Linked DNA regions of Homo sapiens: region 1 is linked to region 2. A link means that fine-mapping ties the variant in region 2 to the expression of a gene that starts in the linked region. Tissue or cell type: whole blood. Region 2 holds a variant in brackets; the other region holds the start of a gene. All regions are shown on one strand. Distances are from middle to middle.

Evidence for each region. PIP is the estimated chance that this variant, and not a neighbour inherited with it, causes the effect.
Region 1: HEY1 starts here. The variant in region 2 is fine-mapped to the expression of HEY1 in whole blood (INTERVAL, PIP above 0.99). The same link has a PIP of 0.9 or more in neutrophils.

The regions. Positions count from the first base shown.
Region 1 is chr8:79,766,130-79,768,889 of GRCh38, forward strand. HEY1 (hes related family bHLH transcription factor with YRPW motif 1) reads right to left here and starts at 1,638. Exons shown (of 5, transcript NM_012258.4): 1 at 1,446-1,638; 2 at 1,090-1,165; 3 at 880-963; 4 at 522-603. The coding sequence starts at 1,534. It overlaps LINC01607 (long intergenic non-protein coding RNA 1607), which reads left to right and starts at 2,013. Exons shown (of 4, transcript NR_125410.1): 1 at 2,013-2,089. RefSeq lists an enhancer at 1,161-1,210 and silencers at 1,661-2,140, 2,181-2,540, 2,641-2,760.
Region 2 is chr8:79,829,403-79,832,162 of GRCh38, forward strand. The region is part of intron 2 of LOC101927040 (a long non-coding RNA gene); the gene reads right to left. Among named protein-coding and RNA genes, the nearest start is that of LINC01607, 63 kb to the left of the region's middle. The variant T/A (reference allele first, on the strand shown) is at 1,265.

The DNA of each region.
Region 1 (2,760 bases), 63 kb before region 2:
TTATCATCGCGGAGCTTTTAGGCACTTGGACCTCAGTAAAGCATTTTCCTGCTGGAGAGACATACACACAGACCTTGGTCTCCCGTTAGGTTTCCTTTACTTAACCAGAATACATTTCTTTCCTCAAGAGGCATGTGGCAGCACCTTTTTTTTAAAATCCCGTATACCAAAAATAAGACCACATATTGTTTTTAAATGCTTTTTCTCAAAATAGCAATGGACAAATGTGAAAGCTACCTGATCTGAATCAGGGCTGTCACAACTTTTGAAGACCTCACAAATAATAGGTATTTTTCCAAAAGATGCACTAGCTCAATCCGCAGAGAGCTGGGGTGGTGAATTCACTGGAGAAGATTCTATGTGCATTCGAAAATGTACTGACAGGGAACTGCACACACCACACACCGTTCTCTCCCCACCCCCAAAGAAAAATCAGGCAGCTACTGCACCAATCCTGGCCTTCAGCCGCTGCTCACTCTTTGCCAACCATTCAGAGCCCCCACTAGGTCTAGGAGATGTACCTTTCCCTCCTGCCGTATGCAGCATTTTCAGGTGATCCACGGTCATCTGCAGGATCTCGGCTTTTTCTAGCTTAGCAGATCCCTAAAGATGAGAATGGCAAAAGATTGATTTGGCACAAGTTCCTTTGGGGAACAATTTAAAATATGCAAACATATATACAAAGATACATGCTTTGTAAATCGTAAAGCATGGACTAAAGCAAAATCAGTTGTCTTCACAAAATACGCTGGTATCTGTGTACGAATTCATCTAGGCACAAGCAACACAGCTATTTTCCAAGGCGGATGAGATTAATGAGGGGAAGATTCAGAAGGTGCAGATAGCTATGCTGAGAGCTTTACCTACTTGCTCCATTACCTGCTTCTCAAAAGCACTGGGTACCAGCCTTCTCAGCTCAGACAAACTGTTATTGATCCGGTCTCGTCGGCGCTTCTCAATTATCTGCAGAAGGCAAGCAAAACAAAGGAAGGCATTACCATTACGACTGTAAATTTCAAAGACAAAAAAAAAGGTGGTTATTTCCGTTAATCAATAACAAAAATAAAAGGAGAGTGTAAAGAGACTCACTCCTCTCCGTCTTTTTCTGGCCAAAATCTGGGAAGATGTAGTTGGGGACATGGAACCTAGAGCCGAACTCAAGTTTCTGAAAAGAGAAAAAGAACAAACAAAAACTGAAATCGCCGTTAAACGAGGAGAGGTGATCTGAGAGGTCGCCCCCACACCCTCCCCGCACTCAGACTTTTTTTGCCACTTGGGCTGGAAGGCACCTAGGGGTTCCCTGGCCGCAGGCTGCCGCCAGCCTGCGACGCGCGGAGGTCAGCGCAGGGCACCGGCGCGCCAAGGGTCCTAGCCCGCTGTCACCGCGGCAGGCCTGCGCTCGCCTCCCGCTCTGGCTCGGCTCCGCTCCGCCGCCGCCAGCTCACCCATTCTCGTCCGCACTCTCCTTCTCCACCTCGATGGTCTCGTCCAGCTCGCTGTCCGAGGAGCTGTACTCGGGGTGAGCTCGCTTCATGCTGGCTCCCTGGGGGTTCCTGGGGAGGGTCGGCGCGGCGGGCAGGGAGGAGTTAACTACAGCGGCGCCTCTCCGCTCTCGGCTGCTTGCGTTCCGCACACACTGATCCCGCTCACGCTTTGCCTCTGGTTAAAACTCAACCATCCTTTCCCACGCTGAGCCCCTTCCCAGGGCCCTGGGGAGGGCGGGGGAGTGGGGAAGGCGGGCGAGGGGGCGGAGAGGCGGGGCGGCAACTCCAGGGCAACAGCCGCCCCCCGGCCAATCCGGTTTCTCGCGCCGCTGATTGGCAGCCGCTCCGGGGAGGGGCGGGAGCGAGGCCGAGGGCTCTAGCGGACCGCGCCCCCGCCCTCCGCGCCCGCCCCTGCCCGGCGGCGGTGCGTCGGCTCCGCGGGGGCTCTGTCCAGCCTGCACTCAGGGGAAGGAGGAGGCGCGGGCGGCGGGGAGGCGCGGGAGGCCGGGCCGGGACACAAGCCCGCCGGCGGCCGCGGCTCCTCCCCGCCCCGCGCGCCCCGATTGGCCTGGCCGCGCGCCAGGGCCGAGCCTGCAGCGCCTCCGGTGAGCCGCACGCGCCGCGGGCCGTGGGAAAGTGCCGGCGCCGCGGCCGCCAGCCAATCCGGGCGGCCGGCGACGGCGACGGCGGCGGCCGCGCTGGCGGCGGCGGCGGCGGCGCTGGGCGTCCGCATGAATGGAGAAGAATGGGCAGGCGGGGAGCCGGGCCGCGCGAGGGCGCGCCGGCGGGGGCTGGGCGGCCGCCGGCCGGGCCCCCAGTGTGAACCTGTAATCGGAGCCTGGGCGCCGGCCGGCCTCGGAAGCCGCCGCCTAGCGCCACCGTAAATCTCGCCCGCGTGGCCGCCAGTGCCCGGCGGCTGGAGGCGCGCGCTGTTAGTGGGGCCGTGCCGGGTGCACCTGGCCGGGCTGCGCGCCGGCGGCTCCGCGGAACCCGCAGGGAGCCGGGAGAGGGGGCGCCGGGCGCGTCCACAGTGGCCACCAGCCCAGGGGCCGGTCACATGGAGGAGCAAGCTGTGGGCTCAGGGGACGCTCTTTTTGATTTCTGGGACCGAGGCCGCACATGCAGCCAGACTCGTTTCCGCAGGGGCTTCCCAGCCGCGGAATGGAATGAATACCCCTGTGCATCTCATTTCCGGGGAAGGGGAGCACTTGTTTTTTCGGCCGCCTTGGGGAAAAAAAAACCCAACGGTCCCTGGGAATAATCATTATGCTGGGAT
Region 2 (2,760 bases):
CACTCAACAGCATGTGGAGAAGCTTGGAAGGCGCTGATTTCGGCTCAAGTCCGTTTTTAAAGGACACTTTAATAAAGCATCCTCTTGTGTCTTGGATCTTAGAACACCAAATGTACAGTGAAATGAGGTCAGAAGACCTGTGTGCCAGTCCTGACTCCTGACCACTAAGTTATGATGTAGTTGGCACAAGTCATTAAGCTTCGGGGACTTTATTACATCTCTAAAATGGAGGTAATGAGACCTCCCCTGCCCCCCTCTGGGGGGTTATATATAGGAAAATAGGAAAACACTTTGAAAAGTTAAAAATGCTGCTATACAGTCAAAAGTTATTATTCTTACAATAATAAAGTTCATTATGAGTATTCTGTAAGTACATTTTTAAATTTAATTTTTTTACATAGAAACAGGTTCTCACTATGTTGCCCAAGCTGGTCTCAACCTCCTGAGCTCAAGCGATCCTCCTGCCTTGGCCTCCCAAATAGCTGGGATTACAGGCATGATCCATGATGCCCAGCCTGTAAGCAGTTTATTATCAGTATTCACATAAGAGCCAGCAGCATAGGATTTGTTAAGTAAGGAAAAAGCTCGGACACCATCTAGTCCAATCAGTTTTAAATGCATCCATTTAAAATGTAAATGACAAAGCCTCATCCTCCAGAAATATTGATTCCATAGGTATAGATTAGCCCAGAAATCTGGATTTTAGATCACCACCTTGGGATATTCAGAGATAGAATCCAACAACCTGACTTTGAGCAACGTTGTTTTGCAAAACGAGGACATTTCTCATTCTCCTACTCCCTGGCCATATCCTTCCTCCCACTGGGGCTGGGTGTGAGAATAGAGCACATTACTTTCACATCTCTTCATTAATATTTCAGAATCTACAATGTGAAGGACTGGGAAGAAACAAAGCAGAATCGGGGATTATGTTGATGGGTTTGGTTTCCCTTTAATGATGAGAAAAAATGCATGTCTGCTCTGAGCAGATGATAAATTGATCCAGAAAATGTTGCACAAGTGTTCTTTGCTAAGCTTCAGGGTCAAAGTCAACAATATAAAAGAAAATATACCTCCGTTTAGTTGAAAAGGACTTACGTTCAAGGCATTGCACAACAGGTCTGGTGTGGGTTACACTCTGTCAAATGGCCCTGTTCATTTATTCAGCTTTCCACAGATCTTTGCCAAAGAGGACAATGAGAGAAAGAGACAGATTTAGCTGTTGTGGTTGCAGTTTGTTTTTGCACCTGGTGGGTTTTTTTTT[T/A]AAATGACAATAGTTTGAGAATATCACGACAACATTTTTAAAGATAATGAAATCATTTGTATGTGAAGTTGGGATAATGAAATGACAAGCCTCTCATAAAAGGAATCTCCTTTTAGTAACCATTGCCTATACTTGCATTAAGTGAAAAAAAAAAAAAAAATGAACCGAGGAAGAACTTTCTAGAAAGATAGATAGCTCCTAGAAATCTGGGAGCTTTTCATCATTATTAAACTCATTTGTCTTGCAACTTTCTATTCCTAAAATGAGCAAAAAATTTAACAAAAGCAGTCTCTGGAAAACCAAAACAGAGAACTCATAACATATTCCATTTACTCATAGGAAACTCTCAGGTACCTCCTCAAACCTCTCTACACACAGTTCTAATGCACATCTGCATGCACACACGTGTAAGTGTGTGTCTATATTGGTCTTCTATGCTCACAGTAAACACTGAACATCAGAAAATTAGGGTAGAAGAATTTCTGGAAATAGGTGCATTGATAACCAGAGTGATTGGTCAATGGACTGATGAAAAGCAGGGAGACGAGAGTATATTTAAAAGTTTTCAAAATAACTTCAGAATCTGAAAATTTGGGACCCTTTATGTGCCCTATTGCATTGCAGCAGAGTAACAAAATCTTGTTCACTGTCATGATCCCAAGGCATCAAGAAAAAAATTAAATTTCATCCATTTTCTCTGTTTAAGAAGGTACTAAACAATGTATTTTGGAAAGATTTTCATCAAAAATGTTTAAAATTAAAAAGTCCATGCTGAAAGAGACAAATCCTTATGTTTCCAGAACTCTCATTTACTCAAAAATCTTTTTTCCCAAAGTTTCTGAATAAGCAAAGTTTGTCTAAGGAGCAAAGATTGGGAGAGAGGAGGAGTGGGAGGAGGAACAGCTGTTCTGAATTAAGAAGCATGTTAATGACAGCACAGGAGTCAGAAAGATGCTCGGGTTCGCCTGCTGGTCTAAGAGGCAATGTATTAAACTGTCTAATAAAAACAATTGTTCTAGGCCTGTGATAATGGACATGAGGAGAAAGATTTGGAAGACAGCATTGACGAATGAAGTATCTGTGGCATAAAACCACTCTCTCCTGCGCCCTCAGTCCAAGGCTGTTATCAGAAGTAGGTGACACTGCACAGGCACGGGGTGACGAGGGGCGTGCTGGAAATGGCCCAGTCTAACTCACTCACATTTTGGCTTCACAGGGAGCATTTTCTGAGAGGGTCGATCACCTGAACTGCAAATGGGCCAGGGCAGGAACAAGAGGGGAGAAAAGGGGATGCTTTCAACAGGAAGATTAATGATAAACACGAAATAGCATGATGACTGTGAAGGTTTCAGGCACCGGAGATGCTAAGAAAAAAGAAAACAGAAAGTCTTTTTATCTTTACAGTGGTTCCTATAAAGGGGTCAGCAGGTCGTGGTAGAAACTATCAGTTAATTATCTCTAGGTCAGCAGCATGCCTCTAGTCAGAGAGCCCAGCC